Regions from separate parts of the Homo sapiens genome. Here region 2 is linked to region 1. Evidence: fine-mapped expression QTL. A gene starts in region 1. The other region holds a variant in brackets. All regions are shown on one strand. Distances are between the middles of the regions. Region 1 holds the start of CALM3 (calmodulin 3). Region 2 has its middle 32 kb from the start of CALM3.

Region 1 (12,799 bases):
ACCCAGCCAAACCTCAGAAAGCCAATCAGATGGTTTCAGAACAGCAGCCAGTGGGATGTGAGTGTTGCCCACTGTCAGTCCCCTTCTGTGAGTTGGCCCCCTCGACCCCCTCCTGGGCCACATCCAGTCAACGCCACAATTCCTCAACGCCCCCTCAGTCCTTCTGGAATGCCTCTCTTGGCACCCCTGCCCCAACAGGCTGCTGGGATCTGCACGTGGAATCACAGGGCTGGTTGCATGCAACGGCAAAGGGCATGCTCTTCTGCCTGGGGGAGGGCCTCTTGTCCCTCCCAGCAGGTCCCGGGACAGGGCTGGCAGCCACCCCAGCACCCAAAATAAGATGACAAACAAGAGGAAACAAACCAAAATGGAGGAGAGCCATCCGGGCTGGAGGAGGGCAGAGGCTCCCCAAGGGGATCTGGGGAGGGCTTCAACTTATGAATGCATCAGGCCTTGGAAGACATGGATGGAAGAGGCGAGGGCAAAAGGAAGAGATGAGGGGCATGGAGAGAGACTCAGGGAAGAAGGAGAAAGAGCAATCATGCAGCTTGGGACAAATCTTTTGTTGCTTTATCAGATTCTCAGTCAATCAATTGGTGTTTGCTAGAACCGGGGTACGCAGGGGAGTGTTGAAGAGAGAGTGCGCGCGCGAGAAGAGAGAGATCAAGAGAACGGGCATCGCCAGCTGCCCGGGGGGCCTTCACTTTGCAGTCATCATCTGTACAAACTCTGTGGAGTGAAGCAGAGAGAGAGGAGGTCAGGCGGGCAGGCTAAGTGGCGAGCGGCCCTCCCCAACAAGAGGGATCTGGGGGCTTGTTCCTGAAGCTGCGATTCTCTTCTTGTTCCAGAGATCAAGCCTGGCCTTGACTCACCTTCATAATTGACCTGGCCATCTCCATCGATGTCAGCCTCCCTGATCATCTCATCCACCTCCTCATCGGTCAGCTTCTCCCCCAGGTTCGTCATTACGTGACGCAGCTCTGCGGCGCTGATGTAGCCATTCCCATCCTGGGGGTTGGGGATAAAGCCTTTCACTGGGCACTTCTCCCGGTGGGGAGAGAGGCAGTGAGAGGGGTGGCTGTCATCACCATCCCTCAGCAGTGAGCACAGTGAGGGAGGCTGCCTGAGGTGGCAGAGCAGGTTGGCAATGAGGCTGGCACCGGGACCCGGACCTCCTGGAAGTGGTAGCTCCGTGGCTCCAGTTCCGCCTGTCTGCCTGAAGGCTGGCGTCAGTCTCAGAGCCGCCCCTGGAGAGGGCTGCTTACCTTGTCAAAGACACGGAACGCCTCTCGGATCTCCTCCTCACTGTCTGTGTCCTTCATCTTTCTGGCCATCATGGTCAGGAACTCCGGGAAGTCAATGGTCCCGTTCCCTGGAAGGTGGGGAAAGGATGGAGAATGCTCTTGGCCTGGGCCCTGAGAGACACGGGCTCATCCATCACCCTGAGAGAGGCTCCCTGCAGTCACTCGGGGTGACCAGGAGCAGGGCTGCCCACGCGCTCTGTGGGGCTCACCATCTGCATCCACCTCATTGATCATATCCTGCAGCTCTGCTTCAGTGGGGTTCTGTCCCAGGGATCTCATCACTGTCCCCAACTCCTTGGTGGTGATAGTGCCATCTCCATCCTTGTCAAAGAGGGAGAAGGCCTCCTTGAACTCTGGGGGAAGAAGGGGGAGGAGTCAGAGGTCACAAGGTCCACAGGAGAATCCTTACCTCTGGATGCTGGATGCCTTCCCTGGAGGAAGGCCAAGGGCATCAGTCCCACCTAAAGAAACTGAGACAGACTTCAAGTCCCACGCAACCAGCTCTCTCTCCTCAGTGCTCAGGGCAAAGCCCTTCCAACCTTCATTCAACAGTTATTGAACATCAACACTGTGCTAGGTGAAGCTATTTTTCTGGCCAGCCAGTGAAGACAGTGGGGAAAATGGTCTGACAGCTGTCCTTAGATGATTCTACATTTCTGTTTGGTCCCTGGCTTTGACTTCTCCCTTGAAATGATGAAATGAACCAAAGTCATGGAGTGAATGAGAGCCGAAAGGATTCTTTGTCTGAGTGTGTTAGCCAGGGTTGGCTGGCTGGGACGAGGAGGGGAGGCTGCAGAATGCCTCTGGCCGGCCTGAAGAGGAAATGCAGGCATCCACTCCCTTCTGACTGGCAGCCCTGTTCCTTGCCGTGGGTGCTACCAGCTTCCAAAGGAGCTGAGCCACTGCGTGTGGTGAGCGTGGGGGTGGTCGGCAGCAGAACATGGCTGACGGACAGTGCGTGGGGTTGATGGGGGGATGGAAAGCGAGGGGACGGCTGCCAAGCCAGGAGGATGAGGAGCTAGCAGTGCTGAGTGGGAAGGCCACAGCTGGGGCCGCATCAGGGGCAGGGAGAAAAGCACATGGCTCTTGCCCTCCCACTGGGCCCATTTTGGCACCTGGTGCTCCTCTACCCCCAAGCCCTCCAAAAACAGATGTCCGGCAGCCTATTCCCAGAGGGTGTGGGCTGGGGTGAGGCGGTGGACAGTTTGCTAATGGGGACAGGGTGAAAAGCAGACCGTTTATGTTGCACAAGGCCAGAGTTGGGAGATGGGTGGCAGGTGCATTGGGAGGGACATGCACAGCTGGGAAGCTGTGGCCCTGAGCCTCTGGGCCCTGGGGACATGGCAAGAGTCTCTTTGGGGAGGCTGGCACCTCCCTGTGCTGAGGCCTTGTTGTTCTTGGGGAGGGCAGGTAGTGAGTGGGTCATGGGGCACCCCGAGCTCATGATCACTAAACCAGGCCATCTTCTGGCTTTCCTCAGGGGTCTCCATAGCCACCCAGGGCCAAAATTTTGAAGCTGCAAAGGTGACTCTGTGATGCGGGTTGAGGGGAGAAAGGAGAGAAGGCAAGTCCGTTCCTGCCTCCCACCGCAGAAGCTGGGCCTTTAGTACTTGTTACACAGCCGGTTGAACCTGACAGCAGAGCTGGGGGCTGGGTAGCTGGTGGGGAGCAGAGGCCCATTCTCTGGATCGCTACTCTGGTCTACTGTGTGCTGGCCCCTGGCTATGGAGATAAACCAAGAGTTGCTCTCTGTCCTCGGGCAGCTCAGTATGGGCGGGTAGGCAGGCACGGATCTGTAATTACACAATAGTTCCTGTAGCTGACCCTTCTGGGGTTTTGGAGGGGTTAGAAAAATGAATTAGATGGGATCCAGGGATTTCTTCTAGCTTGCTGAGAGAGAGATGTTTGTTTAGCCAGCAAAAGTTTGCGGAGGACCTACTACGTTCTAGGCAGGCATTAAGGCTATAGCAGGGACCAACAAAACCAAGTCCCAAACTCAATGGAACTCACATCTAGTAACAGGAGATACAACAGGTGAAGACATAAGAAAATAATTTCAGACAGCGAGAAAGGTTATGAAGAAAATAAAGTGATGTGAAGGAGAGTAAAGGAAGGCTGTGTACTTGAGATGGGGGTCAGGGAAGGCCTCCCCGAGGGGACATCTGAGCTAAGGGACGGGAAGGAGCTGCCCATGCAAAGCACTGGGGAGGCACTTCCGCCAGCAGAACAGGCAGGCGCAGGCACATGCGAAAGGAAGTGCAAAGCGCAGGCAAGCGCAGAGGTGGGAGTGACGAGCCAGCTCCTGGGCGGCTCCTAAAGTGGGACAGGAGCTCTGCAGGCCCCACAGGGAGGCAGGGAGCTCACCTTCTAAGCCAACCTGGCTGAAGCTGGGAGAGAGAGTTGGGCTCGTCCTGCAGCCACTGATATCAAGCCCCTAGATGACCCAGGCCCAGGAGAGGAACACAGCCTTTGGTGTCTGGTAAAGGCCTGTCTCAGGGCCATGGGGCTTCGTGTCATTGGGGCACTGGTGTGCTCTTACACACATTTATCAGCATTCTAGGCACAAGGCATAGTGTTAGGTGACACAAGGGATACACAGGTTCACCCATCAGATGTCACTCCTCAGTGGCTAAGATTTGGCTGGGGATGTGGAGGCTTTCCTGAGCTAAGATGAGGGGGATAGCAGACTCACCTGCAATCTGCTCCTCAGTCAGCTGGTCAGCCTGTAAAAGCATGAAGGGGAAAGTCAGTCACCAGGCCGGACAGCACGGACGCATCTTCCTCACTCAGCCCAGACCCTCGGCCCCAGTGAGGCCAGCTCCACGTGCCATTCCCGCCGGGCCAGGGAGGAGCATGCCAGAGTCAGGGTCTGAGGCAGAGCCAGCGCCTGATGATAAAGTCTGGTGATTCAGAAAGCTGGGTACCAGGGTGGGCTGGACACTCAGGCCTGCTGGACGCACGGCCCGATGAAGCTGCCCAGACCCACGGGCTTCCAATCTCAACTCAGCATGTGGGAGCCACAGGGGCGGGAGAAAAGCCTGCCCCAGCCCCAAACCAGCAGCGCTGGTGAGGCCTGGCACAGGTTTGCATCTCATCAGTGAGAGCCCCAGAGGCCGAGTGAAGGGAACGATTGCCCTGGAGGCCTCATCAAGAAGCTCTAGAAGGCTCCAAACTGAAGCAGGCCAGTCCTTGGGTAGGGCAGAGGGACGATGTCTGGGGCTATCTCTGCTAGTTTCTGTGTCACCTATTTGGAGGCGGTTGGCTCAGGCAGAGTCCACCCAAGTGGCAAAAATTCTCCTAACCGGCGGCCCGAGTTGCTCAAGCACCTAAAGAACTCTGGTCAGGCTGGAGGCAGGCGCTCCACCCCCTGCGCACAGTGAGGGCACAGGGCCATTCTGTTTTGTTTCTTTTGGGCAGAAGGGACAAACGTCAGGGAGAGGGCTGCAGCGGGCAGCAGCAGAGGACTGAAGCTGGCTTGCACTGCAGTTTTTAACCCTTTCCAGCTTGGGCACTCTGGGGACTGGCCAGTGGGTGGCAGGCAGCCCTTGCTGCATGCGGGGTTTGGGGGTGGGGAGGAGATGCGGGGACTGGCTTCTCCTGCACTGGTGTGCTGGGCATCAGCCAGGCATAGTGATCCTATGGGGCAGGAGCGGGGCTGGGGGGTTGGGGAGGCTGAATCCCAACATTTAGCTTTAGCAGCCAAAAGACACATTTTCCCTGGTTTTTGTTGATGCTGTGAAGAAGGCACCACCATCCCGGGACCATGGTGGGTCTGTTCCCCTTCCTTTCACAATCAGGGAAAGGGGCTCCAAGTCTATAGCATGTTCTAGTCTCGAGTCTGAGAGCCTCAGAAATAGAAGCAGACTATTATGTGAATTTGCAGTATTCTACGGAGAGGTTCCAGAAGCTAGGAACAAACCACTGCCTGCCTCCCCTACCCCCATCCCCGTCCCAAATATTAACAATCACTGATCTAAAAAAGTTAGAAAAAAAAAAAAAAAACCTAACGGAAGAAGAACTTGCAAGCCCCAAATAGGCAGAATGGGAGGGGTAATCAAAATGATGATCACAGAGGGGAGAGGGCTTAGGGAGGGGGAAAGAGGAAGGGAGAAAACGGCACACATGCACATTCTGGAAAAGTCCAAAGTGTAAAGGGGAGGTGGGGAGGCCAAATGAAGATTCTTCTGCATTGCCTTCAAAAAAGACAGGGTGGTTGGGCTTCTAAATGCCAACCTGGTAGCCCCAGGCCCATGAGCCTCTTGATCCACCTGCCCCCCACCTCCCACCATGGACAAAAAAGCCTGGAGCCATCCCTTAGGTCCTGACACCTGAGGAAGAGGCTTAGGGAAAGTGAGAAGGGAGGATGGGCTTCTGGTTACCGAGACCAGGCAATGCCCAGGGAGGGTCAGGGAAAGAACAGAGAGGAGGGCAGCAGTGTGGGGAGGTGGCTGCCATCCCATCTGCTTTTCATTCTTTCCCCTGGCCTAGAATGGAAAAAGCGAGCCAGGTCAGGGCCTTCCCAGCCCACTGTTCCGCCCTGCAAGAAGTCCAGCTCCCCGGACCTTTGGGCAGCACTGTAAGGGGCTGGGGGTGGGGGCGAGGAGGCTGTGACAGGCTGCAGACTGCCCCGAGCGGCTCTGAAGGCCACCGTTTGCCAGTCTCCACCAAAAGACTGGAAGATGCAGATGAGGCACTGCCATGTTCAGTTCTGTCACAGGGTTGCTGCAAATAGGCGTGGCTCTGCATGGAGGGCCTGTCAGATGCTCTCCCTCCCATGTTGGAGACCCACTTCCCTGCTTGGTCAAGGAAAGGTACAGATCTCAAGCAAGGTTGCCGCCCAGAAAACCGACCGCCTAAGAAGATATCATTGATCCTTGCTCAAGGTTTCTTCCCTTTCTAGACCTGAAGACTAAACTTTCAACAAAAACTGTTTCCAAAATAACTCAGCTGGTCTCCTGCTTCCTTATCCCTCATCTTAGGCTCCAGCAAGGGGCTGGACAAGAAAAAAAACCATGAGGTGGGGGAGGGAAGAGGGTGTGATTTCTCTGCCTTGCCCCAGCCCCCAGCCAATGCCAGAGAGCAGTGTTAGATGAGATCAGAAACCAAGGCCAGGGCCCCTCACCCGGGCCAAGGAGGAGCCACAGAGCTCAGGCCAAAGTCCAAGGCCAGTTACCAGTGACTTGTCCCACCTCTACCTTGCTGATTACAAACAGAAAGAGAAACTAGTTGTGGCCAAAGCTTGGGTCCTATTCTGGAGGTAGGGGGCCTGCTAGTGCTTCAGGGCCCCTTTTAGCCAGGTTCTGCTGGGGGAAAATGGGGTAGCGGCAAGAGGAGCCATCAGGTCTGTGTCAGCAAGTATGAGATCTGATACACAGCAGCGGCTGCCTGTTCTCCCCAGCCTTGCCAGGGAGGATGGCTGCACACGGTTCCCAGGCTCAGCCTGGTGGGGCTGTGGGTGTTGTGGGTGGCAGGGAGTAGGAAAGAACTAGTCTGCTGGTTTTCTCTCAAAGCCCTGTGAATTAACAGACACGCTCAGCGAGGGCCCTGAATGGAACAAGTGGCCCTCAGGCCGATCAAGGGGTCTCCCCAGAGGCACTCTCTGATCAAGCTCTGCAGCCCCCACCCCGAGGGCACGGGAATAGGCATCTGATTGTCACTGACGCCACACTGTACTGCACTGTCATTTGGCACAAGTGACGAGGTGCAGCATGGTGCGTGGGGCTGGGGATCATGAGAAAACCGGCGCTCCTGCTGGGAAAAGGCAGTGCTCTTGGCCTGAAAAGGGCAGCGACAGAGTGAGGCTTCTAGGCTTGAAAAAGCTGGCTCATTCGAGGCACCCCAAACTTTGATCTCCCATCCCCATTTCATGAGGCTTCAGTGCGCAATAGGGGCCCGAACAGCTCCGCCCACCTGCTCCCACTGCCCCGGTGTCTTCCACCCAGCCGCGTTCTTCCTGAGGAAGGAGGACGGTAGAAAAGCTTCCTCCGGGCCCTGCAGCCCACTCCCCATCCACACTGAGCCGTCTTTGTCCTGGCCTGTCCCTGGAGACTGGCAGGGTGCTACCCACATCCACCCCCAAACCTAGGCCCCCCTGACTGCCATTCATTTTCTCCTTCCACCTCACCTCCCAACCACCCAAGCCCAAGTCCTCCCCCACCCCTCACCTTGGAAATCCATCTTCTCTTGGACCCAAACACAACACTCCCACCCCGTTAAAAAAATTCTGTCTTTCTAGAGCAACAGTCTTAACCCACTAGTAACCTCGGAACCTTTTCTAGCTACTTCCAAATTAACCCCAAGGGTCCCTGTCCCCCGACTACTGGCGAGCCCCACTCTCACCATCCCTTTTCACCACCTCCACGACCCTGATCCTTCTCCGTCCCGGAAGCCTTCAAGAGTATCTTCTAATCTCCGCTGCCACCCACCCCAGGCTCTTCCTCCCATAAGCTTGCACCTCACCCTCCTCCTCCTCTGCAGTGCTGGGCTCTGGAGACCACCCTCCCCCACCCTCCCCCACCCTCGGGAGTCTCATCTGTAGAAGTGACCGCCCATCCTTGACCCTCTCCTCTGCTCCACAGGAGCCCAGGGGTCGCCCCTCCCCGCCCGGGCCCAGCTACCCTCCACCACCCCATCCAGGAGCAGCCCAGCCTCCCTTCGTCCCCCGTTCCCCGCATCCTCTCAGGACCAAACGCCTTCATCAGGGCCCGAATAGCTCCCCTCCCCAGCCCATCTTTCTTATTTCGTCCCCTGGGGTCCAAACACCTCCATCCTGAAACCCAACGCCCCATCCTGGGTCCAAAATCCTTTTGAGGGGTCCCACTGAGGGTCCCGATCCTCCATCCGGGGTTCAAATGTCCCCTTTAGGGGCTCAGATACCCATTTGTGGACTTAAACATCCCATTTGGTGCTAAAGTCGCTTCTGGAAACCTCTGGTGATCCAGACGTCCCGCTCTGGGTTCAACAGCCCCCGACAACGCGGGTAGAAAAGGGTCCCGAGGCTCTCGCCGGGCCCGGACGCCCCCCACTCTGGGCTCTGTCGCCCCCTCAGGGGTCCTGCCCCGTTAAGCCCGCCTCAGAGCCCGCAGCCTCGGCGACCCCCCAGCCTCACTCACCATGGCGAGGCCCGGGGTGTCCGGAGCACGGGGATCAAGGTTCCTCCGGCGGCGGCAGCAGCTGCAGCAGTTCCAGCTCCGCCGCGCGTCCGCGCCTCCACACTCACTGCCCGCAGCGCGCGCCGCCGCCGCCGCCGCCTCCCGCCCCAACGGTCCCTCAACGGCCGCCGCGCGCGCCCCGCCTCGCTCGGCCCCGCCCCACCCGGCCCGCGCGCCGCCGCACTGCGGCTCCCACGGATCCCTCCGCGCCCCGCTCCACACCTACGGGCCCGCGAATCTCTCGTCCCCACCCTGCACAGGAATTGGGTTTGCCGCCGGGCGCGCGCGCGCTCGCTCCCGTCGCCGGACTACTTTCCCTCGCCGCGCGCCCCGCCTCCCGGGCCCACTTCACTTTCTTCGGCGGAGGGGCACAGCTCGGCGGTGCGTGACGCGTCCCTCTGTGAGCCGCGTCACTATTGGGCCTGGCCCATGGCGGAAATGAGAGCTTGGCGCCCATTGGTCCGACCTTCCCTGCAATGCGTCAAACTGGGGCGAGCCACTGCAAGGTGGTGGTGGGTAAGTCTGAACTCTGTGGCCGCGTGGGGCTTTGAGGAGTAACGAGGCGAAGGGGGAAACGGCGTCGCCGTTAGAGAAGCAAATACGTCGTTTCTGTGGCCAGGAGGTGGTAAAAAGGCTGGCGACAAATGCAGAAGGGCTTTCTCGGCTCTCCCCTTTAACCGACGGACGATGGTTCAATCCAAAATGCTAGGGTTTAGAAGCTCCGCCCCTAACTGGGCCTTTGGAGGTGGCGGGGTCTCCAAGGTGCCACCTAACGCTCAGAGGTTCCGCCCTCCGTGGTCTTGTCTCTGCGTCCTAAGACGCACTCAGCCGGTGGGCGGGACCCCTGGGCCCGCTTCATTCTTGATCCGCTCAGGGTCTGTGAAATTAGGACCATCCCAGGACAGCCTGTGGGAACGGGGTATTCATTCAGTCATTCGTGCTATAAGCATCAATTAGGCGCCTGCTGTATGCAGGGACCTGAGCTTGGCTGGGCTGGGGAGACCATACTCCCCAACCAGCCTCTCCAGACAGACGACCTCTTTCCTTATTCCAGTGTTCCAGCCATAGGAGGAAAAAGAACTGAAACTTTGTTTATAGGAGCTCAGAAAATGATCACCCCTGCCCCCTCCCCCGTTTAGGATAGGAGCTGACAGTCTCCTGCGTGTCCCCTCCCCACCATGTTGATGGTTAAGAGATGGGCAAACGAGTCAGGCTGGACCAATCATTATGCTCCACCTGGAACAGAATGGAGACTGAACCAATGAGAGTCCTTCCCTGGGGTTTGGATCTGCAGCCTGGGCACAAGAAGCCTTTTCCTTTTGGGTGGGTCCTTCCCATAGATTCTGACTATGGTCATTTTCCCACTCTGCCCCCTATCTTGAGGAACAAAGTGTCTAGAGAAGAAGAGAAAAATAAAACTGACACAGTGGAGAGGTAAAGAAGATGGCCGGGCGCGGTGGCTCATGCCTTTAATCCTAACACTTGTTACTCAGTCTCAAATCTCATGTTAAAATGTGATCACCAATGTTGGAGGTGGGGCCTGGTGGGAGGTGTTTGGGTCATAGGGGTGGATCCCTCATGAATGACTTGGTGCTGTCCTCACGGTAACAAGTGAGTTCTTATTCTGTTAGTTCACACAAGATCTGTATTTTTTTTGAGACGGAGTCTTGCTCTGTCACATAGGCTAGAGTGCAGTGGCATGATCTTGGCTCACTACAACCTCCGCCTCCCAGGTTTAAGCGATTCTCCTGCCTCAGCCTCCCAAGTAGTTGGGACTACAGGCACCCACCACTACACTTGGCTAATTTTTGTATTTTTAGTAAAGACAGGGTTTCACCATGTTGGCCAGGCTGGTCTCAAACTCTTGAGCTCAAGTGATCCGCCTGCCTTGGCCTCCCAAAGTGCTGTAATCACAAGAATACAACCATCAGGAGTGCCTCAAGGGAGAAATATCCTCTGAGAATAGCCACAGACAAAGTGGGGAGGTGGGACTACCATCCCCAGCCCTGGAAACTCTCTCTACTCTATAACTTGGCCAAAGGAGATGCCAAATCAGAGTGGCTGTTCGTTAGCACCATGCTGTGGGAGGTTTCTTCCATAGCTCCCCTGGGAATGAACCCCTAGCCAGCTTTCCTATGCTACTGGGATATCCCCTTTGGGACCTCCCCCATTCGGGATGGGAGACGCTCTGATCTTTAATAGAGCCAAGGCAAACCTGGTTTTAAGGTGCCACTGAGTGCTAAAAAGGAGGCAGCAACCTAGCAGAAAAAAAGAAACCAACAGGTCAATTACGAAGAATCTGTAAGCAAATGGAGCCAGTAAAAGCCAAAACAAGCCAGACGGAGAAGGCTGGAATAAGTGACTAATCCTTCAGTGCAAAGGCATAGATGTACATTAACAACAAACCAAAGCAAACAGGGAACCATGAGCTCCCCAAATGGACCAAGTAAGGGACCAGTGACTAAACCTAACAAGACAGTAATATGTGAGCTTTCTAAGAATTCAAAATGGCATTTTTAAGGAAACTCAGTGAATTCCAAGACGACATAGAAAAGCAACGCAGAAATTTATCAGTGAAATTTAACAAAGAGATTGAAATAATAATTTAAAAAAAACCCAAACAAATCTTAGAACTGAGAAATACATTTGCTGAACTGAAAAGTTCATTAGAGGTTCTCAACAGCAGAGTGGGTCAAGCAGAGGAAACAATCAGTGAACTTGGAGACGGGCTGTTTGTAAATACATACAGAAGAAAAAAGAAAAAAGAATGAAAGGAATGGAAATCACCTACGAAATATAGAAGACAAAATCTAAGAATTATTGGTGTTCAAGAGGGAGCTGAGGAGGAGCAAGGGGATAGAAAGGATATTCAAAGAAACAATGGAAGACATTCAAAAATTGCAAATATCCAGGTACAGAAAGGCCAGAGAACACCAAATAGATTTGATTACCCCAAGGCATATAATAATCAAACTCTCAAAGGTCAAGAACAAAGAGAGGATCCTAGAAACAGTAAGAGAAAAGAAGGAAATAACACTTAAAAGAGCTCTAATTTACCTGGCCACAGACTTCTCAATCAAAACCATGAAGGCCATACAAGAATACTGTATCAAGCAAAGCTATTATTCAAATATGAAGAAGAGATAAAGTTTTTCCCAAATAAAAGCAGAGAGAATTCACCACTACCAGATCTGTATTATAAGAAATGCTCTCTTGAAGAAAGACAGTTCCAGAGAGTTCCTCAATCCGGAAAAAAAAAAAACCATGCAAAAAGAAAAAAAATTTTTTTTGAGACACGATCTTGCTCTATCACCCAGGATGGAGTGCAGTGGCCCAATCATAGCTTACTGCAGCCTCAAACTGCCAGGCTCCAGTGATCCTCCCACCTCAGCCTCCTGAGTAGCTGGGACTACAGGTGCACACCACCATGCCTGGCTAATTTTTGTATTTTCTTTCTGGTAGAGATGGGGTTTTGCCATGTTGCCCAGGCTGGTCTCGAATTCCTGAGCTCAAGCAGTCTTCCCCCATTGGCCTCCTAAAGTGTTGGGATTACAGGTGTGAGCCATCATTCCTGGCCAAAGAAAATATTTGAAGGTATAAAACCCATTGGTAAAATTAGGTGCACAGAGAAACCCAGGATACTCCAATACTGTAATTGTGGTATGCAATTCATTCTTAACTCTACCATAAAGCCTCAAAGACAAATCTATCAAAAACAATAATATTGAGCTGGGTGTAGTCTCAGCTACTTGGGAGGCTGAGGCAGGAGGATCACTTGAACCTAGGAGTTTGAGGCCAGTCTGAGCAACACAGTAAGACCCCATAATTAAAACAATAATAGCTATAGCAGCTTGTTAAAAGACAAGCAAAATAAAAATATGTAAATTGAGGAAACAAAAAGTCAAAATGTGGGAGGGAAGGAGATAAAGTGTGGAGTTTTTATTCATTGTTTCTATTTTTTTCTTTGTGATCTAAGATGTTATCGCTTTAAAATAACTTGTTATAAGATTTTTTTTAGAAGCCTCAAGGTAACCACAATGCAAAAACCTATAATAGATTCAATAAAAATAAAAAGTAGCAAGTTAAAACGTACTACCAGAGAAAATCACTTAACCACAAAGGAAGACAGTAAGAAAGGAAAAAAGGGGGCCAGGCACGGTGGCCCACACCTATAATCCCAGCACTTTGGGAGGCTGAAGCAGGCGGATCACCTGAGGTCGGGAGTTCGAGATCAGCCTGACTAACATAGAGAAACCGCTTCTCTACTAAAAATACAAAAAATTAGCCGGGCGTGGTGGCACATGCCTGTAATTCCAGCTACTCGGGAGACTGAGGCAGGAGAAT
Region 2 (16,275 bases), 34 kb after region 1:
CAACTCCTGACCTCAAGTGATCTGCCTGCCTCAGCCTCCCAAAGTGCTGGGATTACAAGCATGAGCCACCACGCCTGGCCCATTGTTGTTTTATACCAGTGTATTTGTCTGTTTTCACACTGCTATAAATAACTGCCTAAGACTGGGTAATTTATAAAGAAAAGAGGTTTAATTGATTCACAGTTCTGCATGGCTAAGGAGGCCTCAGGAAACAGACAATAATGCCGGAAGGGGAAGTAGGGATGTCTTGTATGGCAGGAAATGAGAGGTCATGTGAAGGAGGAACTGTCAAACACTTATTAAACCATTAGATCTGGCCGGGTGCGGTGGCTCAAGCCTGTAATCCCAGCTCTTTGGGAGGCCAAGGTGGACGGATCACGAGGTCAGGAGATCGAGACCATCCTGGTTAACACGGTGAAACCCCGTCTCTACTAAAAGTACAAAAAAAATTAGCCGGGTGTGGTGGCGGACGCTTGTAGTCCCAGTTACTCGGGAGGCTGAGGCAGGAGAATGGCACGAACTCGGGAGGCGCAGGTTGCAGTGAGCCGAGATCGCACCACTGCACTCCAGCCTGGGTGACAGAGCGAGACTCCGTCTCAAAAAAAAACAAAACAAAAAACATTAGATCTCACTGTCATGAGAACAGCATGGGGAAACCATCCCCATGATCCAATTACCTCCTTCCCTTAACAGGTGGGGATTACAATTTGAGATGAGATTTCGGTGGGAACACAGAGCCAAACCACATCAACCAGTAAATCTTGGGCTGATTTGTTACACAGCGATAGATAACTTACTACGTCAGGATCATGGTAAGTGAGATCATGTATATGAACATAATGTGTATGATCATGAATATCTCGCACACAGACAATGGACTGAAAAAGAGAAATCATATTATTCTTACCATTTTCTGCTTGCTTGAGTGTTGTAGACTGAATGTTTGTGTCCTCTCTGAATTCATATCTTGAAGCCAAAACCATCAGTGTGATATTATTTGGAGGCAGGGAACTTTGGAGGTAATTAGATTTAGATCAGGTCAGGAGGCTGGGACCCCCATGATAGGATTAGTACCCTTATAGGAAGAGGAAGAGAGGCTGGGAGTGGTGGCTCACCCTGTAATCCCAACATTTGGGAGGCTGAGGCAGGTGGATCACTTGAGCCCAGGAGTTTGAGACCAGCCTGGCCAGCCTGGCCAGCCTGGTGAAAGCCCATCTCTACTAAATACAAAAAAATTAACCAGGCATGGTGGCGGGTGCCTGTAATCCCAGCTACTTGGGAGGCTGAGGCAGGAGAATCGCTTGAACCCTGGAGGCAGAGGTTGCAGTGAGCCGAGATCACGCCACTGCACTTCAGCCTGGGCTATGGAGCAAGACTCCATCTCAAAAAGAAAGAAAGAAAAAAAACAAGAGGAAGAGAAACCAGAGCTCACGTTCTCCACGTGCACACACTGGGGAAAGGCCATGGGAAGGCACAGCAAAAAGGCGTCTGCTTGCAAGTCAGGAAGCAAGGCCTCACCAACAACTGAATCTGCTGGCACCTTCATCTTGGACTCCCCAGCCTCCAGAACTGTGAAAAAATAAATGTCTGTTGTTTAAGCCACCCAATCTTTTTTTTTTTTTTTTTAATTTTTTGTAGAGACAAGGTCCCATCATGTGGTTCTGCCTCTGCTTTCCAACCTGTTGAAATTACAGGTGTGAGCCACTGCACCTGGCTGTTTTTAATTTCTTTCTTTCTTTCTTTTTTTTTTTTAAAGGGATGGGGTCTCACCCTCACCCAGGCTGTAGTGTGATCCCAGGTCACCGCAGCCTCGAATTTCTGGGCTCAAGCCATCCTCTTGTTCAGCCTCCCAAGTAGCTGGGACTACAGGCCTGCACCACTTTGCATAGCTAATTTCTAAGTTATTTTCAAAGAAAAAGGGTCTCATTTTGTTGCCAGGGTGGAGTGCAGTGGTGTGATCTTGGCTCACTCCAACCTCCGCTTCCTGGGTTCAAGCAATTCTTGTACCCTCAGCCTTCCAAGTAGTGGGGGTTACAGGCACACACCACCACACCTAACTACGTTTTTGAATTTTTAGTAGAGACAGGATTTCGCCATGTTGGCCAGGCTGATCTCGAACTTCTGACCTCAGGTGATTCACCTGCCTCAGTCTCCCAAAGTGCTGGGATTACAGGCATGAGCCACTGTGCCTGGCCTCCCAATATCATATATATCATATATATAAAATATGTATCTCATATATAATATCATATATATATATATATATATATATATATATATATATATATATGTACTTTTTTTTTTTTTTGAGGAGTCTGGCTCTGTCACCCAGGCTGGAGTGCAGTGGCACGATCTCAGCTCATTGCAACCTTACCTCCTGTGTTCAAGCAATTCTCCTGCCTCAGCCTTCTGAATAGCTGGGATTACAGGCGCCAGCTACCATGCCTGGCTAATTTTTGTATTTTAGTAGAGACAGGGGTTCACCACGTTGGCCAGGCTGGTGTTGAACTCCTGTCCTCGGGTGATCTGCCTGCCTCGGCCTCCCAAAGTGCTGGGATTATGGACGTGAGCCCCTGAGCCCGGCCTGTCACACACTTTTAAACCATCAGATCTCATGATAACTCATTCACTATCATGAGAACAGCGTGGGGGAAACCGCGCCCATGATCCAATTACCTCCCACCAGGTCCCTCCCCCAGGCATGTGGAGATTACAATTTGACATGAGATTTGGGTGGAGACACAGAGCCAAACCACATCACAGTGTGTGGCGTGGGGGTTGGGGATTCCTGCCCTAGAGCCTCCAGAAGGAGCACATCTTTGATTTTAACCCAGTGCGACCCGTGCTAGACTTCTACCCCTCAGAACTGCAAGAGAGCAAATTTGTATTGTTTAAGCCACTTAGCCTGTAGTCATTCATTACAGCAGCAAGAAGACCTGAACACACTGGGGCTGAGGACAGAGATGCACAGGGAGGGAAAGGAATGAGAGACAGAAGTGGTGAGAATGAATGAGATCGGGGAGAACAGGTGAAGATGGCAAGAGGGCCTGGGCACAGGGCAGCCACGGATCATGCTCAGGGGAGGGAAGAGGAGGTGCCTGGGGAGGCTGGCAAGAAACGGTCAGAGAGATGACTTGAGCTTGAAGGACAAAAGCCCAAGGCTGACATCTGTTGCTTGTGTGGGCAGTCAGGAGCTCCCACTTCTCAGGGATGTTCCCAGCATTGTCTCTGTGCTGATGACTTCCAGTGTGGCTGTCATGCCCAGCCCTGTGGCTGGAGCCCGGGGCCCCATTCAGCCTTGGTTGCAATTGTGTGGAAATCAATAACTACAAATTCCAAAGGTATAAATGGGAAACCTGAATGGAGAGATAAGGGCATAGGTTTCAGAGGGAGTATGGCCTTGCCAACACCTTGAATTTTTTTTGTTTGTTTGTTTTTGAGACAGGGTTTCGCTCTGCCATCCAGCCTGGAGTGCAGTGGTGCAATCATAGCTCACTGCAGCCTCAAACTCCTGGTTTTAAATAATCCTTCTGCTTTAGCCTCCCAAGTAGCTAGGACTGCAGGTGTGTGCCACCACGCTCAGCTAATTAAAAAAAATTTTTTTTTGTAGAGGCCAGACACCGTGGCTTATGCCTGTAATCCCAGGAGGCCAAGGCGGGCAGCTCACTGAGGTCAGAAGTTCAAGACCAGCCTGGCCAACATGATGAAACCTTGTCTGTATTAAAAATACAAAAATTAGATGGGAGTGGTGGCGGGCGCCTGTAATCCCAGCTACTTGGGAGACTGAGGCTGGAGAATCACTTGAACCCAGGAGGTGGAGGTTGAAGTGAGCAGAGATCGTGCCATTGCACTCTAGCCTGGACAACAAGAGTGAAACTCTGTCAAAAAAAAAAAAATTTTTTTTTTTTTTGGTAGAGAGGGGGTCTTGCTATGTTGCTCAGGCTGGTCTAGAACTCCTGCACTCAGGCTATCCTCTACCATCGATCTCCTGAAGTGCTGGGTTTACAGGCCTGAGCCACTGCACCTGGCCATGACTTTATGTTCATTTAATTAATCATATCTGCAACAACCCTGTTTCCAAATGAGGTCACATTCTGAGGGACTGGGAAAGAGGGCTTCAGCATATCTTTTTGGGAAACACCACTCAACCCATAACGCTTATAAAGAGCATTGTGTTTGTGAGGATTGTGTTTATAATGGCCCACCCAGGTACGCTAGGATAATCACCCCATATCAACAGCCTTAGCTTAATTACACCTGCACAGTCCATTTTGCCAAGTAGCAAAGCTGTTCACAAGTCTAGGGATTAGAACGTGGATATCCTTGGAGGGGGCATTTTTCTGTCTACCACGCCAGTTCTCTCTCTGAGCTCCAGGCTTGGCTAGACAAGGGATTCCTGAATGTCTCTCTCCAGATGTCTGCTGGGTACTTTCCACTCACCGTGTCCAAGTTGATCTCAGCATCTTCCCCCACCAGTCCTGTTCCTCTCACATCCCCATCCCAGGGATGACTCCTCTGTCTCTCCCAGCAGACTCATCTCCTCCTGTCCTCCTCTCATCCTTGACTCCTGAGCCAGAGAGCTGAGATTCTTTAAGCAACTCAAAGATTCATTTCTTCAGCCAACATTTCTTCCTTCCTTCCTTGCTTCCTTCCTTCTTTCCTTCCTTCCTTCTTTCCTCCTTTCTTTCTTTCTCCTTCTTTCCTTCCTTCTTTCCTTCTTTCTTTCCTTCTCTCTTTCTTTCTTTCTCTTTCTTCCTTCCTTCCTTCCTCTCTCTCTCTCTCTCTCTCTCTTTCTTTCTTTCTTTCTTTCTTTCTTTCTTTCTTTCTTTCTTTCTTTCTTTCTTTCTTTCTTTCTGATGGAGTCTTGCTCTGTCTCGCAGGCTGGAGTGCAGTGGCAGGATCTCGGCTCACTGCCACCTCCACCTTCAGCGTTCAAGTAATTCTCCTGCCTCAGCCTTCTGATTAGTTGAGATTACAGATGCCCGCCACCATGCTCAGCTGATTTTTGTATTTTTAGTAGAGACGGGGTTTTGCCATGTTGGCCAGGCTGGTCTTGAGCTCCCAACCTCAGGTGATCCGCCCACCTTGGCCTTCTAAAGTGGTAGGATGACAGGCATAAGCCACCACGCCTGGCCTTCAGACAACATTTCTTGAGCGCCTGCTAGGTGCCAAGTCATCTTCTAGGTACTGGGAACACAGCAATGAACAAATCAGACAGCAGTCCCTGTTTTTTTGTGGAGTTTTCCTTCTCATGGGGGGGACTCAGGCAGCAATAATGTAAAGACATTAAATATGTGGTTTATTATGGGTTTAAAAAGAAGCTCAGGGCCGGACACGGTGGCTCACACCTTTAATCCCAGCACTTTGGGAGGCCGAGGTGGACAGATCATGAGGTCAGGAGTTCGAGACCAGCCTGGCCAATATGGTGAAACCCTGCCTCTACTAAAAATACAAAAATTAGCCAGGTGTGGTGGCGCTTACCCGTAGTCCCAGGTACTCGGGAGTCTGAGGCAGAAGAATCACTTGAACCTGGGAGGTGGAGGTTACAGTGAGCCGAGATCGTGCCACTGCATTCCAGCCTGGGCGACAGAGGGAGACTCTGTCTCAAAAGAAAGAAAAAAAAAAAAGCTCAGTCCTCTTCCCCGACATTTTGCTGATCCTGCCTCCATGTCTCCCTCTCCAGGAGTTTGTCATCATTGCGTCCTCACCTCTAACCTGCTGGCTGGTTTTGGTACCATAGTCCCTAGCCTGGCTCCTCCACTCCTGAGCCCTGTGCTGCCCTGGAGGAAGGTGGCCACACTGAGCAACTAAAAAGATAGAAAGCCAAGTTAAATTTAAAGTTCAGATAAACAATGAGGTGTTTTTAAATAAATATATCCAAAATGTTGCATGGGATATACTCATACTAAAAAAGTATTTGTTGTTTATCTGAAATTCAAATTTAACTGGGTGACATGTTTTTATAAAAAATTCTTTTTGAAAAAAAATTTTTTTTTTCTGAGATGGAGTCTCGCTCCGTTGCCCAGGCTGGAGTGCAGTGGCGCCATCTCAGCTCACTGCAAGCTCCGCCCCCCGGGTTCATGCCATTCTCCTCCTCAGCCTCCCAAGTAGCTGGGACCACAGGCACCCGCCACCAAGCCCGGCTAATTTTTTGTATTTTTAGTAGAGATGGGGTTTCACCGTGTTAGCCAGGATGGTCTCGATCTCCTGACCTCATGATCCACCCGCCTTGGCCTCCCAAAGTGCTAGGATTACAGGCGTGCGCCACCATGCCCAGCCCAAAATGTTTTTACGGGTACAGAGTAAGTGTATACATTTATGGGATACGTGAGATATTTTGATACAGGCATGCAATGTGTAATTATCACATTAGGGTAAATGGGGTATCCCCTCAAGCATGTACAATTTCTTTGTATTACATACACCCCAAATATACTCTTTTAGTTATTTAAAATGTACAGTAAAGTATGGGTTTGTTTTTTTCTTTTTTTTTTTTAGACAGAGTCTTGCTCTGTCACCCAGGCTGGAGTGCAGTGGTGCAATCTCGGCTCACTGCAACCTCTGCCTCCTGGGTTCAAGCGATCCTCCTGCTTCAGCCTCCTGAGTAGGTGGGATTACAGGTGTGTGCCACCACACCTGGCTAGTTTTTGTATTTTCAGTAGAGAGAGGGTTTCACCATGTTGGCCAGGATGGTCTCGAACTCCTGACCTCAGGTGATCCACCGCCTCGGCCTCCCAAAGTGCTGTGATTACAGGTGTGAGCCACTGCGCCCGGCCCTAAAATGTATTGTTGACTGTAGTCACCCTGTTGTGCTATCAAATACTAGAACTTATTCATTCTATTTAACTGCATTGTTATAACTACGAACCATCCCCACTTCCCCCTGCTCCACTACCCTTCCCAGTCCCTGGTAACCATTCTTCTACTCTCCGTCTCCATGAACTCAATTGTTTTAATGTTTAGCTCCCACAAATGAGTGAGAAGATGGGACATTTATTTTTCCATGCCTGGCTGATTTTACTCAACATAATGATCTCTGGTTCCCTCCATGTTGTTGCAAATGACAGGATCTCAATCTTTGTTATGGTTGAAAAGTATCCCATTGTGGCCAGGCATGGTGGTTCACACCTGTAATCCCAGCACTTTGGGAGGCTGAGGTGGGAGGATCACCTGAGGTCAGGAGTTTGAGACCAGCCTGCCCCAACATGGTGAAACCCCATCTCTGCCAAAGATACAAGAAAAAATCAGCTGGGCGTGGTGGTGTGCGCCTGTAATCTCAGCTACTCCAGAGGCTGAGGCAGGAGAATCACTTGAACCCAGGAGGCGGAGGTTGCAGTGAGCCGAGGTCGTGCCATTGCACTCCAGCCTGGGCAACAGGGTGAGACTCTGTCTCAAAAACAATAACAACAATAACAACAACGACAACAAAACAGTACCCATTGTGCATAGGTACCACATTTTCTTTATCCATATGTCTGTTGGTGGACACTCAGCTTGCTTCCAAATCTTGGCTGTGGTGAACTGTGCTGCAACAAACATGGGGGTGCAGGTATCTCTTGGATACACTGACTTCCTTCCTTTTGGGTATATACACAGCATGGGATTGCTAGATCATATGGTAGTTCTCTTTGTAGTTTTTTGAAGAACCTCCATACTGTTCTCCAGAGTGTCTGTACTAATTTACATTCCCACCAACAGTGTATGAGGGTTCCCGTTTCTCCACATCCTCGCCAGCATTTGTTATTACATATTTTGGATAAAAGCCATTGTGACTGGGGTGAGGTGATATCTCGTTGTAGTTTTGATTCACATTTTTCTGATGGTCAATGATGTTGATGTTGAGTACCTTTTCATATACCTGTTTGCCATTTGTGTGTCTTCTGAAAAATGTCTATTCTGATCTTTTGCCCTTAGGCTTTTCCAAATATAAGATCATATTATCTGCGAATAAGGATAATTTGACTTCTTCCTTTCCAACCTGGATGCCCTTTATTTCTTTCTCTTTTCTGATTGCTGTAGCTAGGACTTCCACTACTACGTTGAAGAACAGTGGGGGAAGTGGGCATCCTTGTCTTGCTCCAGATCTTAGAGGAAAGGCTTTCAGTTTTTCTCCATTCAGTATGATTCTAGCTGTATGTCTGTCATACATGACTTTTATTATGTTGAGGTATGTTCCTTCTATACCCAATTTTTTGAGGGTTTTTATCATGAAGGGATGTTGAATTCTATTAAAGGCTTTGTCAGCATCAATTGAAATGATCATATGGTTTTTTTCCCTCATTGTATTGATATGATGTATCACATTGACTGATTTGCATATGTTGAACCATCCTTGCATCCCTGGGATAAATCTCACTTGGTCATGATAAATGTGAGTGACCTTGCTTTATCTGGCAACACAACTATGAAGTCAGAAACTGTTCAAACTAAGGCCAGGAGTGGTGGCTCACGCCTGTAATCCCAGCACACTGGGAGGCCGAGGTGGGCGGATCACTTGAGGCCAGGAGTTGGAGACCAGCCTGGCCAACATGGCGAAACCCTGTCTCTACTAAAAATACAAAACTAGCTGGGTGTGGTGGTGCAGGCCTGTGATCCCAGCTACTCGGGAGGCTGAGGCAGGAGAATCACTTGAACCTGGGAGGTGGAGGTTGCAGTGAGCCAAGATCAAGATCACACCACTGCACTCCAGCCTGGGTGACAGAGCGAGACTTGGTCTTTAAAAAAAAAAAAAAACTGTTAAAACTAGAACTTTCTACCTCGTCACTCTGTTTGCCATTGTTTCCCACCAGGTGGAGCCATGGTCATATTTATTATCTTAACATCTTAACATGTTTACTTATGGTAGGATGACCTGCAGTGGTCCAGCCTCGTGGTATTCATGCCCTTCTGGGACCTATACCCCTTTGTGTGTAGATTGGGCATAGTGACAAGCTTCTAACAAACAGCATATG[G/A]CAGAAGTGATGTGATGTCACTCCCGGTACAGGTTACTGGAAGACTGGTTTATGTCCTGCTGGTCCTCCCCACCTTGCCTTGCTTGCTCTATGGAAGGGGCTTCCATTATGGGAACTGCCTGGGGAGAGGCTCATGGGGCAAGGAACTGATGCCTCCAGCCAACAGCCAGCAAGGACCTGAGGGCTGCCCACTGCCATGAGTGAGTCTGGAGGCAGATTTTCCACCCTGAGATGCCTGCAGCTCCAGCCAGCCCCTTGACTCTAGCCTTGAGGAACCTACAGCCAAAGCCACCCAGTTACCCTCACCCAGATTCCTGACTGCTGGAAATTGTGACATCGTAAATGTTTCTTGTTTTAAGCCAATACATGTTGGTGTAATTTTTGTTTTGCCTTTGTTTTTGTCTTTTTGAGTCAGTGTCTTACTCTGTTGCCTGGGCTGGCGTGCAGTGGTACGATCATGGCTCACTGCAGCCTCGGCATCCTGGGCTCAAGTGATCCTCCTGCCTCGGCCTCCCAAAGTGCCAAGATTACAGGCATGTGCCGCAATGCCTGGCCTGGTGTAATTTCTTATGTGGCAGTAGATAACTAATACACTTGTTATATGGCAGTAGATAACTAATACATAACTAATAAATATTCTTCTCCCCACTCCCTCTCTTTCCCCCATCACTGGACAGTGATGTCTGTGAGGGTAGGGACCATTATCAGTATTGTAACCTGTGTGTCATCAGACAGCACAGCACAGAGTATGTTTGTGCATGGCGTTCAAAAGTTCGTGGAGTAGGCCAGGCAGAATGGCTCATGCCTATAATCCCAGCACTTTGGGAGGTCAAGGCAGGCAGATCACCTGAGCCCAGGAGTTTGAGACCAGCCTGGACAACGTGGTGAAACTCCACCTCTACAAAAAATGCAAAAATTAGCGGGCCTGATGTCATGTGCCTATAGTCCCAGCTACTTAGGAAGCAGAGGCAGGAGGATCACTTGAGCCTGGGAGGCAGAGGTTGCAGTGAGCCAAGATTGCACCACTGCACTCCAGCCTGGGTGACACAGTGAGACCCAATCTCAAAAAAAAAAAAAAAAAGATTTGTGGAATAAATGCAGGAATGCATGAACAAGAGTTGTTAGTTCTCATATAAGCTTTTAAAAGACAGATGCTCAAGAGCAAGTAGGAAAGTGAAATACCAGCAAAATAAAATATCTTCTCTGGGTTTGCTCTGGGAGAGCAAAGTACCAGCCAGGTGTCAGCCAGAGAAAGAGAATGATGAGGAGTAAGATGTGGATATGCATATACGTATCCAGGTATCAGTCCTGGTTCTCCAGAAGAACAGAACCAGTAGGAGATATAGATATGATATATACACGTATGCATATAAATACACATATATGCTGCTGGAGTTTGGATATTTGACTCTCCAAACCTCATGTTGCATTTTGATCCCCAATGTCAGGGGTGGGACCTAATGGGAGGTGTCTGGGTCATGGAGGTGAATTTCTCACAATTGGTTTGGTGTCAGCCTCTTGGTAGTGAGTGAGTTATCTCTCTATTAGCACCTGCAAGAGTTCCCCTGGGAGCTGGTTATTAAAAAGAGACTGGCATCTTCCCATTCTCTTGCTCATTCTCTTGCCATGTGATTTGGACATGCCAGCTACCCTTCCACTTCTGCCATGAGTGGAAGAAGCCTGTGGCCCTCACACTGCAGACTGGTGAGTCAAATAAACCTCTTTTCTTTATGAATTACCCAGTACCCAGGCTCAGATTGGTTCTTTTTTTTTTTTTTTGAGATGGAGTCTCGCCGTGTCGCCAGGCTGGAGTGCAGTGGCGCAATCTCGGCTCACTGCAACCTCCGCCTCCCAGGTTCAAGCCATTCTCCTGCCTCAGCCTCCTGAGTAGCTGGGACTACAGGCACACGCCACCATGCCCAGCTAATTTGTTTTTTGTATTTTTAGTAGACACAGGGTTTCACCATGTTCACCAGGATGGTCTCGATCTCTTGACCTTGTGATCCACCCACCTCAGCCTCCCAAAGTGCTGGGATTACAGGCGTGAGCCACCGCGCCCAGCCCAGGTATTTTTTTGATAGCAAAGCAAAACAGACTAAGATATATGCACATACACATATATATACATACATGTATATATGTATGCATATATGTGTACATGTATTTATGTATTTATGTATTTACTTATTGCAAATGAATGGGCTTCTGCCATTTTAGGGGCTGGCTAGGTAAGTCCAAGATCCACAGGGCAGGCTGGAAACTCTCAGGCAGGAGTTGATGTCATTCAAAAGCAAAATTCCTTCTTCCTCAGGGAAACCTCAGTTCTGCTCCCCCAAAGGCCTTTCAACTGATTGGATCAGGCTCACCCAGATTATCTAGGATAATTTACTTAAAGTCAACTGATAGTAGATGTCAGTCACATGTACAAAATACTTTCATAGCAACACCTAGGTTAGTGTTTGATCAAATAACTGGATACTAGTGTTTGATCAAATTACTGATAAAGACATACCCAAGACTGGGTAATTTATAAAGGAAAAGATGTTTAATGGACTTACAGTTCCACATGGCTGGGGAGGCCTCACAATCATGGCAGAAGGGAAAAGTCACGTCTTACCTGGTGGCAGGCAAGAGAGAATGAGAATCAAGTGAAAGGGGAAACCCTTATAAAATCATCAGCTCTCATGAGACGTATTCACTACTACAGAACAGTACGGGGGAACCATCCTCATGATTCAATTATCTCCCACCAGGTCCCTCCACAACACATGGGAATTATGGGAGCTACAATTCGGAGACAAGATTTGGGTGGGGACACAGCCAAACCATATCATCTAGGTAAATGGATATAGGAAGCTGAATATCACAATTCATAAGGGATGGGTGATAGGGATTTGACCATATGCATTGCATAAGCTGGTTGAGCCATCTATGTAAGGGTGATCTCTCTGCATCTGCTGGTACAGCCTGAAGTCAGCAGGGCAGGTATTGGGAAGGGAAGATGGGATACAAAGTGGGGAAGCCAGGGAAGACGAACTGAGAGGATCAGTGGGAAGCCATGTAGACAGACGGGACCCTCACAGTCTCCAGGACTCCAATTTTCATGAGCGGATGTCTTCCAGGAGAAGTCACTGCTCTTTGATTTGGAGTTAAATGTGTACCTGCAGGAGGATCCTGTGGGAGCTGGGAGAGGTAGGGGCCTGGCTGCTGCCTCACATCCCCAGGGAGAGCCTCAAGGTGCAAACAACGTGCATGACAGCCACAGTGCCTGGGCCTGCACCCACCTGCCCAACACAAAAGCATGTGGCTTCTGCTTCCCTTCTGCCTTCCACATTCATGCACGTTGTCTCCTGGGGCCCATGCTAACTTTCAGCTGCATAGGGAAAGGCTTGTGGGAAACCTCCTTCAGCTTAATGAAATTGACACATTACAAATTCATGACCAGTGGGAACTGGGACCTTGTTCACCTCTTTGGCTGTGGCCAGAGGCCCTCCTAGAAGCAGAAAGAATTGAGAAGTGGTGCTTCCTGCAAGCAGAACCTATTGGGAAGCCATCTCACAAGGGAAGCTGGGCAATATAGTTTGCAGGCTTCTAGCCTGGTGGTACAAAGGAGGGTGCTGATGACTAAGAATGAAGCAGAAAGCCAGCAGATAAACACTGACACCAAACCAGAGGGGTGGAAATGCTGGCTGACAAAGTGAATGACACTCTGTTGACCTCCAACACCAGCACTTCTAGATCTTAGGGCCCTGTTCCAATTCTCCTTACATCTATTCCTTTTGTCTTATTGGTTGGGGCCCTATTTTTCCCTTGGTGATTCTCCTGTCTTATGAACCTTGATGTCACATAGACTTGTAGTTGCTCTGGGGACAAATCCATTTTCGTGAGAACACAGGTTAGTCATGCCTCCAAAATCAATCCCAAATCTGAATCTACCTCCCTCTCCCCCTACCCTCACCCAAGCCACGATGCTCTCTCTCCTGCTTGAGCAAACAGCCTTCTAATCTGGCCACTCATTTCCACCCCTGCTTTCCTCAAATTTTCTCTCTACATTCAGCCAAAGGGACTTTTATAAGGCACAATCCAGCTGGGCATGATGGCTCATGCCTGTAATCCCAGCACTTTGGGAGGCAGAGGCAGGTGGATCGCTTCAGTTCACGAGTTTGAGACCAGCCTGGGCAACACAGTGAGACCCTGTCTCTACAAAAAATACAAAAAAATTAGCTGGGTGTGGTGGTGCACACCTGTAATTCCAGCTACTTGGGAGGCTTAGGCAGGAGAATTGCTTGAACCCGGGAAGCAGAGGTTGCAGTGAGCCGAGATTGCACCACTAAACTCCAGCCTGGGTGACAGAGTGAGACTCTACAAAAAAAAAAAAAAAAAAAGCACAATCCAGGTCTTGTCACCCCTGTTGAAGACTCTCCAAGGCTCTGTCTTATGCATGAAATAAAATAGGAGCCTCTATATCTTGATCTCTTCCTGCCTCAAGTTGAGAACTCACTGAGTCTTGCTCACTGGGGGCTGTCCTCTGGCCTCTCTCAGATCCTCAAGTCCTCCAATTTCTTCACTAAAGAGCTCTGTACTGGCCGGGTGTGGTGGCTCACACCTGTAATCCCAGCACTTTGGGAGGCCGAGACAGGTGGATCACCTGAGGTCAGGAGTTGGAGACCAGCCTGGCCAACATGGTGAAACCCCGTCTCTACAAAAAATACGAAAATTAGTCATGGTGGCGTGCACCCGTAATCCCAGCTACTTGGGAGGCTAAGGCTGGAGAATTGCTTGAACCTGGGAGGCAGAGGTTGCAGTGAGCTGAGATTGCACCACTGTACTCCAGCCTGGGAGACAGAGCAAGACTCCGTCTCAAAAAACAAAAAACAAACAAACAAAAATCTCTGCACTTTCACTTTCTCTTCTCTTCTCCATGCCTGGGCCTCTCCTCTTGTCACTCCCCTTGCCCACCATGGCTACCTCCTTTGTATTCCTTTGTATTCCTTCCTGCCAGGTGTCACCAACTTCCCCAGCCCTGCTACCTAAAGCAGAGTCCTCCTGCAGTCACTTTCCACCACATCACCTAGTTGGACTTTCCTGGTAGCATGTGTTTTTGCTCCATGAAATGATTGCATTTCTAGTTGTTTATTTAGTTTCCACTTATCCTAGTAGACCGGAAGCCCCAGGAGAGCCCAGACTTGGTCTCGTGACTGCTTTCTGTCCCATCAGTGACAGTGTCAGCGTCCTCAGATCTGGGATTATTCATGTGAGTCCAACACCCCCCAGAGCCCTCAAGAGGAAAGGGAGAGGCGGTGGCCGGATGGACACCCCTGCCTGCTCAGCCCTTCTCCCTGAGGTCTCTTGGATCTGAACAGCAGCAAGAGATCATGGCAAATAAATCACTCAATGCTTGTGTGTTTTGTGCATGTTTTTAGTGCCTCCAAATGCTGAGCATTTAGGGTTTGTTTCCGAGGTTTTCTGAAATACGCCAGGGCCTTGGTGTTGGAAGCAAATTAGGATACCTGTTGTCTGCCTGTGCTCTGAGTCAACCTGAGGAGCTCTCAGCTGGGCCACGTGGAGTGTACACGGGGTGGGCCCCACAACCCCAGCCCCAGCCTTCCTTCCATTTGTGTTTTTTTTTTTTTGAGACAGAGTCTCGCTCTGTCGCCCAGGCTGCAGTGGCACAATCTCGGCTCACTGCAAGCTCCGCCTCCCGGGTTCACACCATTCTCCTGTCTCAGGCCTCCCGAGTAGCTGGGATTACAGGCGCCCGCCACCATGCTCAGCTAATTTTTGTATTTTTAGTAGAGACGGGGTTTTGAAATGTTGGCCAGGCTGGTCTCAAACTCCTGACCTCAGGTGATCCACCTGCTTCGGCTCCCAAAGTGCTGGGATTACAGATATGAGCCACTGCGCCAGACGAAAATCATTTTTAAGTCTTATTTTCCAAGTGTTGAATAAGTTTCCTGCACAGAGCTCCTGAAATCATGTTATCTCTAAAGGTAGCTATTGATAAAATAAGGGGTTGGTCTGATTCTGGTTTGTACTATTCTTAATTAAAATATCGGATAACTCACAAATGTTACGGGAAATAGAAAACAAATTGGAGCTTAGTTTGTGGCATATATTCCCAATCCCAATGATCAATAATGTTTGTATATCATTTATATTAGTACACAGACTCAGTGGTGGCTATTTCATGTGGTCTCTGAATTGTACCTTTATATAGCGTAGGCTCTGTCCTATTTGGCTTGGTAAACTTACATAGATAAAACAAGAGGTGTTAATTGCACACAGAGGCCTCCTTGTTGTATGGTTAGTAAATCTAGAATTATGTGGTGGTGAGCACTGCTAAAACCAGAGAATTAGCTTCTGTCTGGATATTATGTAAGGAATCTAGAGTTGTATATTTGGACTGGACTCTATTAGTCTGGAACGAATAGAACTTTCTTTTACTGCCTACTTTTTTTTTTGAGACGGAGTCTCCCTCTGTCACCTGGAGGTGGAGTGTAGTGGCGCAATCTTGGTTCACTGCAACATCCGCCTCCTGGGTTCAAGCGAGTCTCACACCTTGGGCTCTCGAGGAGCTGGGATCACAGGCATGTGTCACCACCCCCAGGTAATTTTTGTATTTTTTGGTAGAGACGGGGTTTCACCATGCGGCCAGGCTAGTCTCAAACTCCTGACTTCAGGTGATCGCCTTCGAAAGTGCTGGGATTACAGGCGTGAGCCACCACACCCTGCTGCCTACTTTTATGGGTGAATTCTTCCTCCTTCAAGATCCTTTAAGTCTGGACTGAGATCCTGTAAACCACAGCATATATACTGGTTTAATTTCCTGGGAGGGCTTGTAGGATCTGGTTCTACAAATGAAGTTCTACACATCAGCCTTTGTTCCATAATGGTGGGCTTTTCTGACTAGATTAACTGGCTTTATTCTCACATACGATATTGTCAGTATAGCCTTGGTAGTACATTTGATTTGTCTATATCCTTGCAACAATGGGAGCCAATGCATATTAAACTCATGAAAATGCTACATTGTCAGGATGGATGAAGTTATTCTGCATTGTCAGAAAGGATGAAGTTATTTGTAATAATATCTACCCATTATTCTAAGTAGTTGCACCGACTACTTAGTCAGTTGATGTTTTTCATATTTTTATCAGAATCATTATGGATCTTTCCAGATATAATATATATAAATATGGTTCAGTTATTTATTGATACATTATAACCATAAAATTCAAGCACAACCAATGTTCTTTGCTAAGGAGCAGTTATAATTTTTCTAAGCCTTACCCATCATAAATGCATTCATCTGCATTCTGATTAG

What was found. PIP is the estimated chance that this variant, and not a neighbour inherited with it, causes the effect. A credible set is the group of variants that fine-mapping cannot tell apart.
Region 2: its variant is the best candidate, but not a certain one, in a credible set for the expression of CALM3 in whole blood (TOPMed, PIP 0.56).

What each region holds. Positions count from the first base shown.
Region 1 is chr19:46,597,055-46,609,853 of GRCh38, reverse strand. CALM3 (calmodulin 3) reads right to left here and starts at 8,524. Exons shown (of 6, transcript NM_005184.4): 1 at 8,417-8,524; 2 at 3,997-4,027; 3 at 1,514-1,657; 4 at 1,266-1,372; 5 at 873-1,008; 6 at 1-729. The coding sequence starts at 8,419. The coding sequence ends at 701. LOC124904729 (a long non-coding RNA gene) reads left to right here and starts at 694. Exons shown (of 2, transcript XR_007067276.1): 1 at 694-756; 2 at 849-2,030. It also overlaps the pseudogene PPP5D1P. RefSeq lists enhancers at 6,962-7,031, 8,760-9,259 and a silencer at 8,490-8,629.
Region 2 is chr19:46,561,136-46,577,410 of GRCh38, reverse strand. It overlaps the pseudogene PPP5D1P. Among named protein-coding and RNA genes, the nearest start is that of CALM3, 32 kb to the left of the region's middle. The variant G/A (reference allele first, on the strand shown) is at 8,952.